Linked DNA regions of Homo sapiens: region 1 is linked to region 2. The links come from fine-mapping of genetic effects on gene expression. A gene starts in region 2. The other region holds a variant in brackets. All regions are shown on one strand. Distances are from middle to middle. Region 1 overlaps LOC105369709 (a long non-coding RNA gene). Region 2 holds the start of KLHL42 (kelch like family member 42).

Region 1 (5,372 bases), 28 kb before region 2:
CTGATTCTATGGTAATGTTCTCCAGTCTTCTCTTTCAGCATTGAAATTTTCTTCACTGGGGGTTTTCTGGGTGCTGAATGCATTTGGATCTAGGCAGGACAGTGGGTATGTGGTGCCAGGTTTTACTCTACACAGCACTCACAGCAGCTGCCGTTTCATTTCAGCCTTCTGCTAGTAAGATTGACCCTGCTCCTTATACAGTAGAGCCCGAATAACTTTACAAACTTCAGAAGGAAATAGAAGGGCAATTGTGCCAGAAAGACAATAACCACCATGCTTTACAGAGACCTTTGAGCAGGCACCATGATGGAAAATATTTTGAAGCGATGCAACAAATCCAGGAGTATGAGACATTAAAACCCCACTTCATTTTACAAAGCTGCCTCTGAAGATCGGTGAAGCTTGAGACCCACAACAGAGCAGAAAAGACTTCAGAACAAATAAACATCAGCACTGCTAGAAAACACCTACTCACCTCTCTGAAAACTGAGCTGGGAAAACAAACAGTCTTTCTTTACATTTTAGTGGCTCCGAATCACCCTGCATGAATCTGCTGCAGTGGAGGGTCTGGCCGTTTTCCCACCAGCCCGGAGGCACAGAGAGCCAGAATACAGCATTCCCTCTCCATCACAGGCATTCACACCAGCAGTGCTGGCTACACTGTGACAGGACAGCTTGGTGGCCACACCCAAATCCAGAATCCAACAATGGCACCAACAATCCTAGGAAATACACAACCTTCCATTTAACTGCTTCAGATCTCTTCCTTCCAAGCATCTCTTCCAAAGAAAATGCGATCTGGAAGTCCTCCCGTACTTCTCTGTGTATGAGTTTGTTTTGTTGTTGTTGTTTGTTTGTTTGTTTGAGATGGAGTTTTGCTCCTGTCGCCCAGGCTGGAGTGCAGTGGTGCGATCTCAGCTCACTGCAACCTCTGCCTCCCAGGTTCAAGCGACTCTCCTGCCTCAGCCTTCTGAGTAGCTGGGATTATAGGAGCCCACCACCACGCCTGGCTAGTTTTTGTATTTTTAGTAGAGACAGAGTTTCACCACGTTGGCCGGGCTGGTCTCAAACTCCTAACCTCAGGTGATCCATCTACCTCGGCCTCCCAAAATGCTGGGATTACAGGTGTGTGCCACCACGTCCGGCTGAGTTGCTGGTTTGTTTTTTTTTTAATAATAGCAATGACTACTTGTGACCCGCCTGCACTCCCTCACCAAAGCCCCTTCTGCAGACATGCCAGATAATGAGGAAGGGGAGCAAGTCACTAAATAACTGGATTTCTTTCAGGGGCACCTTCTGTGAGGTTATGACCTTGATGACCTAGGAGTAGTGATCACAAGAAATATATGCAGCTATCACATATGGAACATCTAGCGCATGTGAGATCCGGTGGGAAGTGTTTACAGACATTTTCTCTGGTAATCCTCACAAGAAACCAATAAGGAAGCTGGCATTATTACCAGCATACCACAAATGAAGAAACTGAGGTCTGTAGGGTTAAATGCAGGTCACTAGCTAGTGAGAATAAAACTGGTATTTTCATCCAGGCCGTTTGACTCCAGAACTCTCAGAAAGGGATATCTGGGGATAGCATTCTGGATCATTCCAGAACAATGCTAAGCATAGGACAAGGGCGTGCATGTCTAGGATGGACTGAGTGCAGGGCCATATCCTCAAGGCACACAGGTGAAGCACTGTAATACTTTTGGAGGTCCATAAAAATGTTTTCATTGTAATTTATTTTAAAACCAGAAGAAACAGCTGGGTGTAGGGGCTCATACCTGTAATCCCAGCACCATTTTGGGAGGCCAAGGTGGGAGGATTGCTTGAGTCTAGGAGTTTGAGAACAGCCTGGGCGACACAGTGAGAGCACCACCATCTCTACAAAAAATCAAAAGTTAGCCAGGTGTGTTGGCACAGGCCTGAAGTCCCAGCTATTTGGGAGGCTGAGGCGGGAGGATAGCTTGAGTTGAGGAGGTCCAGGCTGCAGTGAGCCATGATCATGTCATTACACTCCAGCCTGGGCAACAGAGCGAGACCCTGTCTCTAAAAATATAAAAAAGAAGAAAAACATGAGTATAACAATAATGAATGGGTAATAATGAGTCCAGCCTGGATTATACTGGTCATTATACAGAGTCGTAAAATATGATTTTTAATCTTGTTTTACCAAGGAAGGGACCCATGAAGGCAAAAATGCCGAGGGCCCACAAAAGTCATGAGATGGCTGGAATCCGGGGTAATGTAGATGGCATTGCTGTGGGCAATAACTAGATGGGAAAAAATGTAGAATGTTCTCTCACAATTAGGCTGCCTTGGTTAAAATAAAACGTGTTCCAAATCAATGCCTCAGAAGGATTATGGAGTTGCCACAGTTTGGGCTGTGAAATAGTCCGTGAAGATAATAATAAACAGTGCTAATGAATGTTCCCCATCTGTTCTTTCTCCCCTTAATGGCTATCAGATAAGAGAACGGAATAAATCAGCAGCCTTTGTACGCTGTCTAATATGCCATAATGTGAGCCCTGGCCTTGGGTCTGTTTGTGTTATTTTCTTAAAATAGTCACAGAG[A/C]AGGCCCCTGGAGAGTTCCTTTTTCCCATGACCTGCCCAGACCAGAAGGCTTAGGATGACTCTGGTCCTCAGAAACAAAAGCCAAAGAAAAAAAAAAGCCAAGAAACCAGGCATGGTGGCTCACGCCTGTAATAACAACATTTTGGGAGGCCGAGTTGGGGGGAATCACTTGAGGCCAGGCAGCCTGGCCAACAAGGTGAAACGCCATCTCTACTAAAGATACAAAAATTAGCAGGGCGTGGTGGCATGCACCTGTAGTCCCAGCTACTCAGGAGGCTGAGGCAGGAAAATCGCTTGAACCTGGGAGGCAGAGGCTTCAGTGAGCCAAGAAGGTGCCACTACATGGGCAACAGAGTCTTTCTCTGTCTCAAAGAAGAAAAAAGAAACCTAAGACAAAGGAATCAGGTGATTCCCGGGATTAGAACAACACTGTCTTGACTCTACCACTGAACACTTGGCTTTGCTCTGAAGAATCCCCCTCCCTCAATGGGTACGGTCTCGGTGAGACTTCCCAAGGGGCCCCATCCCATCCCCAGCCTAGGGCTGGACATGTGACCCCAGCAGGACAATCAGGGTGCTCACTCCTTCCATTTCCATTCAGGGCTCATGGCACGAGACCTAAAGTGGGTTGGAGTTTCTGTCCCATTGGTGGAGCCCCGAAGAGATTGTCCTTGAGTTCCCAACTGCCAGAGCTGCCATCGTTTCTGTTTCTTTCATGTCCTATTAAAGATTGAGTTAAATCCTATCTTTTTAGTAACTTTTCTTTCCTTCCCTTCCTTCCCTCTTTCCTTCCTTCCTTCTTTCCTTCCTTCCTTCTTTCCTTCCTTCCTTCCTTTCCTTCTTTCTTTCTTTTTTCTTTCTTTCTTTCTTTCTTTCTTTCCTTCTTTCTTTCCTTCTTTCTTTCTTTCTTTCTTTCTTTCTTTCTTTCTTTCTTTCTTTCTTTCTTTCTTTCATCAGCTAGAGTCAGTGTCTGTTGGTTTTTTAAAAAATCCTGACTGGTGGGTACCTTCCAGGTACTGGAAGGTGACAGAAATTAGCCTCCATGGGACACTGAACACTGACAGCACTGAATTCATAGACATTATTTAACATCTGTACCTGCTAACTCATGCACTCAGCTAAGAAAGGTACCGTGTTTTTTCATTAAAAGTTGAAATCAAGGTAAGGCTAACGGTCTACGGCCATACCACCCTGAACATGCCCGATCTCATCAAACTATGGCTAACGGTATAGGATTTACCTATCCTGTTCTTTCAGACTTGTAATTATTAAAATGACATTATTAGGCATTAAAATGACACGCATCATGGGGATGTGGGGAGGTGGGGAAGGTAGGCAACTCAAAGCAAACTTCATTTCAGGCAGTGCGCCCCTTCTCAATGAATGGCATGTGAAGCAAACAGCACATTTTAAAAGGTTTTTGAGATAAGATTTAGTACCTGTTTTGAGCTGAACGGTGCCCCCTACCTCCTTAAAAAAAAAAATCAGCGTATCTTTTTTTTTTTTTTAAGGAGGCAGGGGGCAGAGGTTGCAGTGAGTTGAGATCAGGCTACTGCACTTCTGCCTGGGAGACAAAGCAAGACTCTGTCTCAAATAAATAAACAAAACCAACAGACAAACATATACATACACACCAGATTGTATAAGAAAAGTCACCACCAGCCACAGACCACTTGTTATTACAGTGCCTCTTTCTAGATCTCTTGCCTCTGACTTCTTGTCTTCCTACCCAGCAGCACCTCGAAATCCACCAGGGCTGAAAGTAGCCTGAGCAGCGGAATCTCTGCCCCTAGACTTCCTCAGGAAACCCTTCACAGGCCCACATGGGGGTCAGACCACACTTTCTGACAACAACATCGCCTACCTTTTCTACATCTCTTTCCGCTGGCATTCAGATTCTGAATAACTGTGTATTTGTGCCATTCAATTCAGATTTTAGAAAAAAAAAAAAACAGTTCTACGAGTGACAATAATATCACTCAAGCCCTAATATTGATTCTAGTGATGAGAAAATAATGAAGCGACGGGGCTCCATTCCCATTTGCCTGCGGGGCCCCCTGAACTCCTAGGCGTTTGCCTCACTACTGTCTGTGGGCAAACTTCCTTTCCAGCCACAGCCAGAATTCGAAACTTCTCCCATCTGCGTGACGCATTATGTACGTTGGTAGAAGAGAAAAGTACACTGTTTTCCTAATAACCGTTGTTCCTCAAGAAAACACTTTTTTCCTATAAGGAAATTTTAGGGCTACATAAACCAGAAACCTATATATTTTCAGAAAACCCAAGGAGGCTTCAAAACCTTTCCAATTTAACAAATACTTCCAGAATCTGCTGTGTTACATGGCTCTGGTGTATGTCCTGACATAGAGTGATAAAAAGATTAATGAAACACTCTATCATCAAGGAAACTACAGTCTAGAAGAGGAATAAGACAAGCACATAAGAACTGTTCTATGAGACAAATATGTGTGCCCTGAGAGAGAGATAGCTGAAGCTGTATCCAGGAACAAGTATTTTCAGAAGGCTTATCTTCCATAACACTGTAAACCAACCAGCTAGCTCACTTACCAAGACTAACAGCTTCCCCATCAAGGCTAGCTTAGGGGATGTGAGGGTGATCTGCCTGTGACAACTCTCACCCCACTGATCGCCAGGGTTGATTCGACTGATCTGGCTGGCTAGATGGGTGACCCCTTCCTCCCTCACTGCTCCATGTGCGTCCCTCCCGAAACTCCACGCTCAGTCGAAGAGGACAACCATCCCCAATAGAGGAGGACCAGTCTTGGGTCAAGGGTGTATGA
Region 2 (5,372 bases):
CAGCGTCAAGATGATAAGGATGATCCACTTCCGCTTAATTTTCTCTTCCTTAGTTTATTAATAACATTTTCTTTTCTATAGCATACTTTATTGTTAGAATAAAGTATATACTACATATACAAAATGTATTAATTGATTATGTTATTGGTAAGGCATCTGGTAAACAGTAGGCTATTCAGTAGTTAAGTTTTTGGGAGAGTCAAAAGTTATATGGGGATTTTTGACTGTGCAGGGTTTGGTGTCCCTGGCCCCCACATTGTTTAAGGGTTAACTGTATTTATACAAGTATACATATAATTTACAGTATAAATGTTTATACATTTATAATATCTAAAGGTAACAAAAGTCTGTTGATACACTGACACTTTTTTTCTGTACCCTGAGGGCAGACATTTACTCTTTTTACTCCACAGTTTTGTGTGTAATTTGCAGTTTTTCTAAGAATCATGCATTCATGCATTACTTGAATGCTTTTTTTTTTTTTAAGGGGATGAAAAGGGCCTTCCTAGAAAAAAAGACAAAGACTACCAAGGATGTATGAAGGGAAGAAAGAAGTGTGAGGAACTGTGGCACTAAGGATGGCCTGGTGAGCACCAAATGATGTGTAGCTAGAGGAATGCAAGAGGAGTGAGAGAACTCAGGGCCGCCCACCCCTAATCAGACCACCACCCATGGCCACACAATGTTCCTTTGTTGTTTCAATTACAGTGCATAGAATTTGTTTTAAAATAACACTTCTGATACCAAATTTTAAATATGGTATCATCTCAATGGTGTAAATAATGCATTAAAAATGGGCTGGCAGGAAATATGCCAACCTGGTTACTGCCTCTAGGAAGAGCGGGTAGGAATAATCATCTTTTTGCTTCTTCATTCTTTTCCATTTTCCAGTTTTCTGTAACTATGTATTATCAGGGGAAAAAGCATACTTTTCAAAATGAATTTCATATTATAGGAGAAATAAAGCCAGTTATTTCCCCCAAATAATCCCTGGCCGAGGAGGACCCTCGAGTCAAATAAACAGATATATAAAGGATTCTCTGTTACTGTTAAGACTTTCTTTGCCCAGCTGTGAGCTCCCCAACTCCTTGCTCCACACTTCAGGACCAGGACCCTGTGAGGATTGAGATGGAAACACGTGGATGGGAAGAAAGGGTATTTTCATCCTTTCTTGAGTTACATTGATTCTTTTCCCTGCTTCTGAATGACGCTGAGGCCTCCTAGGCGCTACCATCTTTATTTCCTACCATCTCTTCCTGTATATGCTCTTTGCTCTTGTTTTGATATTCCTTCCCTGGTTCCTTTCCCTTCTCCCCTCTCATCCCACTCCTCAAGCTCCTCCTCTTCCTTTCTTCAAGTCACCCTTGTTGGAGGCAGGAGAGATTTGCAGGATGGGAGGGGGAGAAGGTTGCGTAAATGAAAATATTCCAATTCTGTAGTTGAACACTTCCAGGCTCAAGCTGTGGGTCATGACGATGGCTGTCCAGGGAAGGAAGCAAAAGAGAGGATAAAAAATAAGAAAAGCAACCCCTATTGCAAACGTTAATACATTTCCAGTGATTATCTCTTGATCATGATGGGTATCACAGTGTGGAAGACTCTGTTGTCACAGTCACTGACATCAGAAAAAAATCCCCCAAAGTCAGTGTTACAGGTTACTGTCCAGTGTATCATTATCATCAGGATCAAATCCTAAAAACTAAGACAAATTTTTTAAAAATTAAGGGGCAATTTTCTTTTAAAGTATTCTTGTAGGAAACCACAACATCTTTTTTCACAAGAACAGAGGCAAAGAAAGCAGTTTCACCTAAAGGCACAATACCTGCCAAAAAACCACTCCACTTCTTGACCTCACTGGGGACGTCCTCTTCGCAATTTCTTAGTTCATTGGGAATTTTGCCAGCGCCAAGGCCAACAACATTCCTGAAGATGTCATTTCCACCACAGCACACCCTCCCCTATTTACTGGCTCAGTAAACACTGGGGTAATGAACTAATGAACAAGTGAATGAATGAGAAGGCAGCAGCACTCTGCCGGGGTGCTTACCTCTTCTGGTTCATGGAGGCCACCTGGAGCCACTCGTTGGTGCTGGGGTTGTAGGAATGCGCAGCGGAGATCTCCTGGCTAGTGATCCTGTACCCGCCCACTATGAAGAGGTAGTTGTCCAGGATGGCAGACCCATAGCCCCTGACATTGACCAGGTCGGGAGGAAGGTTGTTGGCCAGCGGGAACCAACGCTCAGTCATCTCCTCGTACCTGAGCATGGACGGGGGCTCCCCCTGGTAGGGGTGAGGGGCCAGGGGTCCCCCCAGGAAGTCCCCGAGGGCCACGAGGACAGGAGTCCCAGTCATCCGGGCCTCCCTCAGCCTCTGCTTCAGGCTGACATCCCCTGGAGCTTGGGGAGGAGACCCCAGGAGGTGGAACTGGGGCTTGCACAGCACCTCGTGGAAGTGGACGACCATGAAGCGCAGGCAGGCCTCCTGCAGGTCGGGCAGCCCGTACACCTGCGCCAGGCGGTACATCTCCAGGCAGTTATTGAGCCGCACCTGGGACAGCAGCAGCTGCAGCAGGGACGTGACCTGCAGGAAGGAGGCCGCCTCCACCAGCTCGGACAGCAGGCTCACCTCATCCATCTCCTCGTCCTCGTCCACCCCGCCGCCCTTTTCCCCGCGCGGGCCCAGGAGCCAGCCTTCGCGGGCCCCGCCGGCGTTGATGAAGTCCAGCACCAGCCGCAGGCCCGGCGCGCTGAGGCCGCGCAGCTGCTGCACCTCCGGGCCGCCGGCCTCCTGGCTCAGGGCCTCGCGCATGCCGGAGCGGTAGAGGGCGCGGAAGTAGTCGCTCTGCTCGATGAGCTTCCTCTTGCTCACCGGGTAGCAGCGGTCCTCCAGGCGGATCTGCACCATCTCCTCGGCCGACATGGCTGGGGGCCCCGGGGCGGCAGCGCTCACCGCCAGATCTGCGCGCCGGCCTCCCAGCCCCTACGCGCGCGCCGGTTCCGGGCGGGGCGCCGAGGGATGGCGGCCCGGGAGGAGCGGCGAGGTGAGGGCCGCCCGCGCTCGCCCGGCCTCTCCGGCGGCCCCTCCTCCCGGGGCCCGCTCCCGCGAGGCGGCGGCCCTGCCCTTCTCCTTTCCCTCAGCGCCAAAAAAGGGCCGGCGGAGCGCGGCGGGCGTCCTCGCGCGGGCTCTCCCGGGCGGCGCCAGGCGGGAAGGGAATTCCAGCTCCCAGCCAGCAGCCTCCTCCCCCGCCGCCCTTCTCACTTCCGCCCGCGGGACCCCAGCCGCCGGCCTGACCTGCCGGCTGGATCCGGCTCTCGGGGAGGCCCGGGAAGCTGCGGGCCCGGGCGCCTCGGCTGCGGACGCGCAGCTGCGGGAGGCGGAGGGCGCGCGTCCCCGCAGCCTCTCCGCCCGCCCGGGGCGCGCCGGCTCCGCCGCTTGTTGGGGGCTGCAGTGATGCTCCGGGGTACCCCAGGGAGAAGAAATTCGTTTTCTCTCCCACGCTGCTTTACACGGGCTAAAGAAAAAGAAATGAGCGTGGGAGGAAAGGGAAGGATGGAGTCTCTGGTCCAGGGAGACAAAAAGGCATCAAATATGGGGTCGTCCTTCTGGCCCAGTCCGGCATCGAGTGTCAGTGGGCTGAGGCACGCAGGCGATCTATGGACAGTTGGTGGCAATGTTGGTGGCACGTAGAGCTGATTCTCTGGTAGCGTGGTCGCGTAGGAGCCATCTTACAGGAGGTCCAGGCAGATGGCAGCAGGTTCTCAGAGGAATCGGGTTGGGAGGCAGGGGAGCTTGCATTTGCCACTGGGGCCCCTTATTCTCCCTAAGTTATTAAAAGAAAGATGAAAGCGCAGCCCGACTAAATAAAGTTACATCACGTGGCTTCTGGTTTTAAACCATGTTTTCTATGAGCCATTGCTTTTCTACTTCAGTCCAGTCCATTACGGAATGTTATCCTGGCGCAAAAGATCTGACAAAATTGGCTCATAAATGTCTGCAAGAAGTAGCTTTTCTTGTCACCCCCTTTCTCCACCTACCCTGCCCCCATCATCTGAGGACTATTAAGAGAGACCACACGTGCGGTTTGGCTGAGCGCGGTGGCTCACGCCTGTAATCCCATGACTTTGGGAAGCCCAGGTGGGCAGATCACGAGGTCAGGAGTTCGAGAGCACCATGGCCAACATGGTGAAACCCCGTCTCTACTAAAAATACAAAAATTAGCCGGGCGTGGTGGCACGCGCCTGTGATCCCAGCTACTCGGGAGGCTGAGGCAGGAGAATTGCTGGAACCCGGGAGGCGGAGGTTGCAGTGAGCCGAGATCGCGCCACTGCACTCCAGCCTGGGCGACAGAGCGAGACGCCGTCTCGGAAAAGAGAGACCACTTGTTTCCTATGTTCTCTCACTGAACATTGCAATTAGAAGGCCCACCCCAAATAATAATAGGAAGGACTTTTTGTCTTGCTAATGAATTCATCCCAGGAAGGGGGTGGGGGGAGAAATATATTGTTTGGATTATCTTTGGGTAGGAGAAGGGAGAAGGATTGGGAGGAAGCAGAGGGTGTGTTCACTCTTATCTTACAAAACAAAAACAGAAAACCTTGAAAACTTACCCCAAACCAAGATTTGAGAACCACCTATGATAAACAGTCCTTAACTTGGAGAGAATATGTGTTTGGTTTTTTTTTTTATTATTACAAGCTTCAGCTTTCTTCTTGAATGACAGATTGTTAAATAATATCTTCTTCATAAGTACATTTCCCCTATTTAAAGAAGATACATCCTACCATGCTAACATTTTACCTTAGGAAGGAGAAAGGGTTAAAAACCAGAGAACTAAAAGAAAGTCAAAGGTGAAACATGAGATCCTTTCAACATAGTTTGGTTACATTTGTGGTTCTTACTACGAAATTTATCTGCTTCACAGAGAGGTGTTGTTGTCATCTTTTACTTTGTTTATTATTATTACTTGGGAAAGGAGGTTTATCTTTTTATTTTTTAGAAAAAAAAATGCATTTTTTTTTTTTTTTGAGACAGAGTTTCCCTCTTGTTGCCCAGGCTGGAGTGCAATGCTGCGATCTCAGCTTTCTGCAACCTCCACCTCCCGGGTTCAAGTGATTCTCCTGCCTCAGCCTCCGGAGTAGCTGGGATTCCAGGCATGAGCCACCACACCCGGCTAATTTTGTATTTTTAGTAGAGACGGGGTTTCACCATGTTGGTCAGGCTGGTCTGGAACTCCCGACCTCACGTGATCCACCCACCTCGGCCTCCCAAAGTGCTGGGATTACAGGCATGAGCCTCCATGCCCAGCAAAAAAAAATGCATTTTTTTTTTCCATAGAGATAGGGTCTTGCTACCTTGCCCAAGACAGACCTCAA

Evidence for each region.
Region 1: its variant is fine-mapped to the expression of KLHL42 in pancreas (GTEx, PIP above 0.99).

The regions. Positions count from the first base shown.
Region 1 is chr12:27,806,194-27,811,565 of GRCh38, reverse strand. LOC105369709 (a long non-coding RNA gene) reads left to right here. Exons shown (of 3, transcript XR_931459.3): 3 at 165-251. It also overlaps the pseudogene RN7SKP15. Among named protein-coding and RNA genes, the nearest start is that of MANSC4, 29 kb to the right of the region's middle. RefSeq lists an enhancer at 3,942-4,111. The variant A/C (reference allele first, on the strand shown) is at 2,572.
Region 2 is chr12:27,777,878-27,783,249 of GRCh38, reverse strand. KLHL42 (kelch like family member 42) reads right to left here and starts at 3,017. Exons shown (of 3, transcript NM_020782.2): 1 at 2,048-3,017. The coding sequence starts at 2,919. MANSC4 (MANSC domain containing 4) reads left to right here and starts at 3,014. Exons shown (of 4, transcript NM_001146221.5): 1 at 3,014-3,040. RefSeq lists an enhancer at 2,501-3,000 and silencers at 2,866-3,175, 3,196-3,415.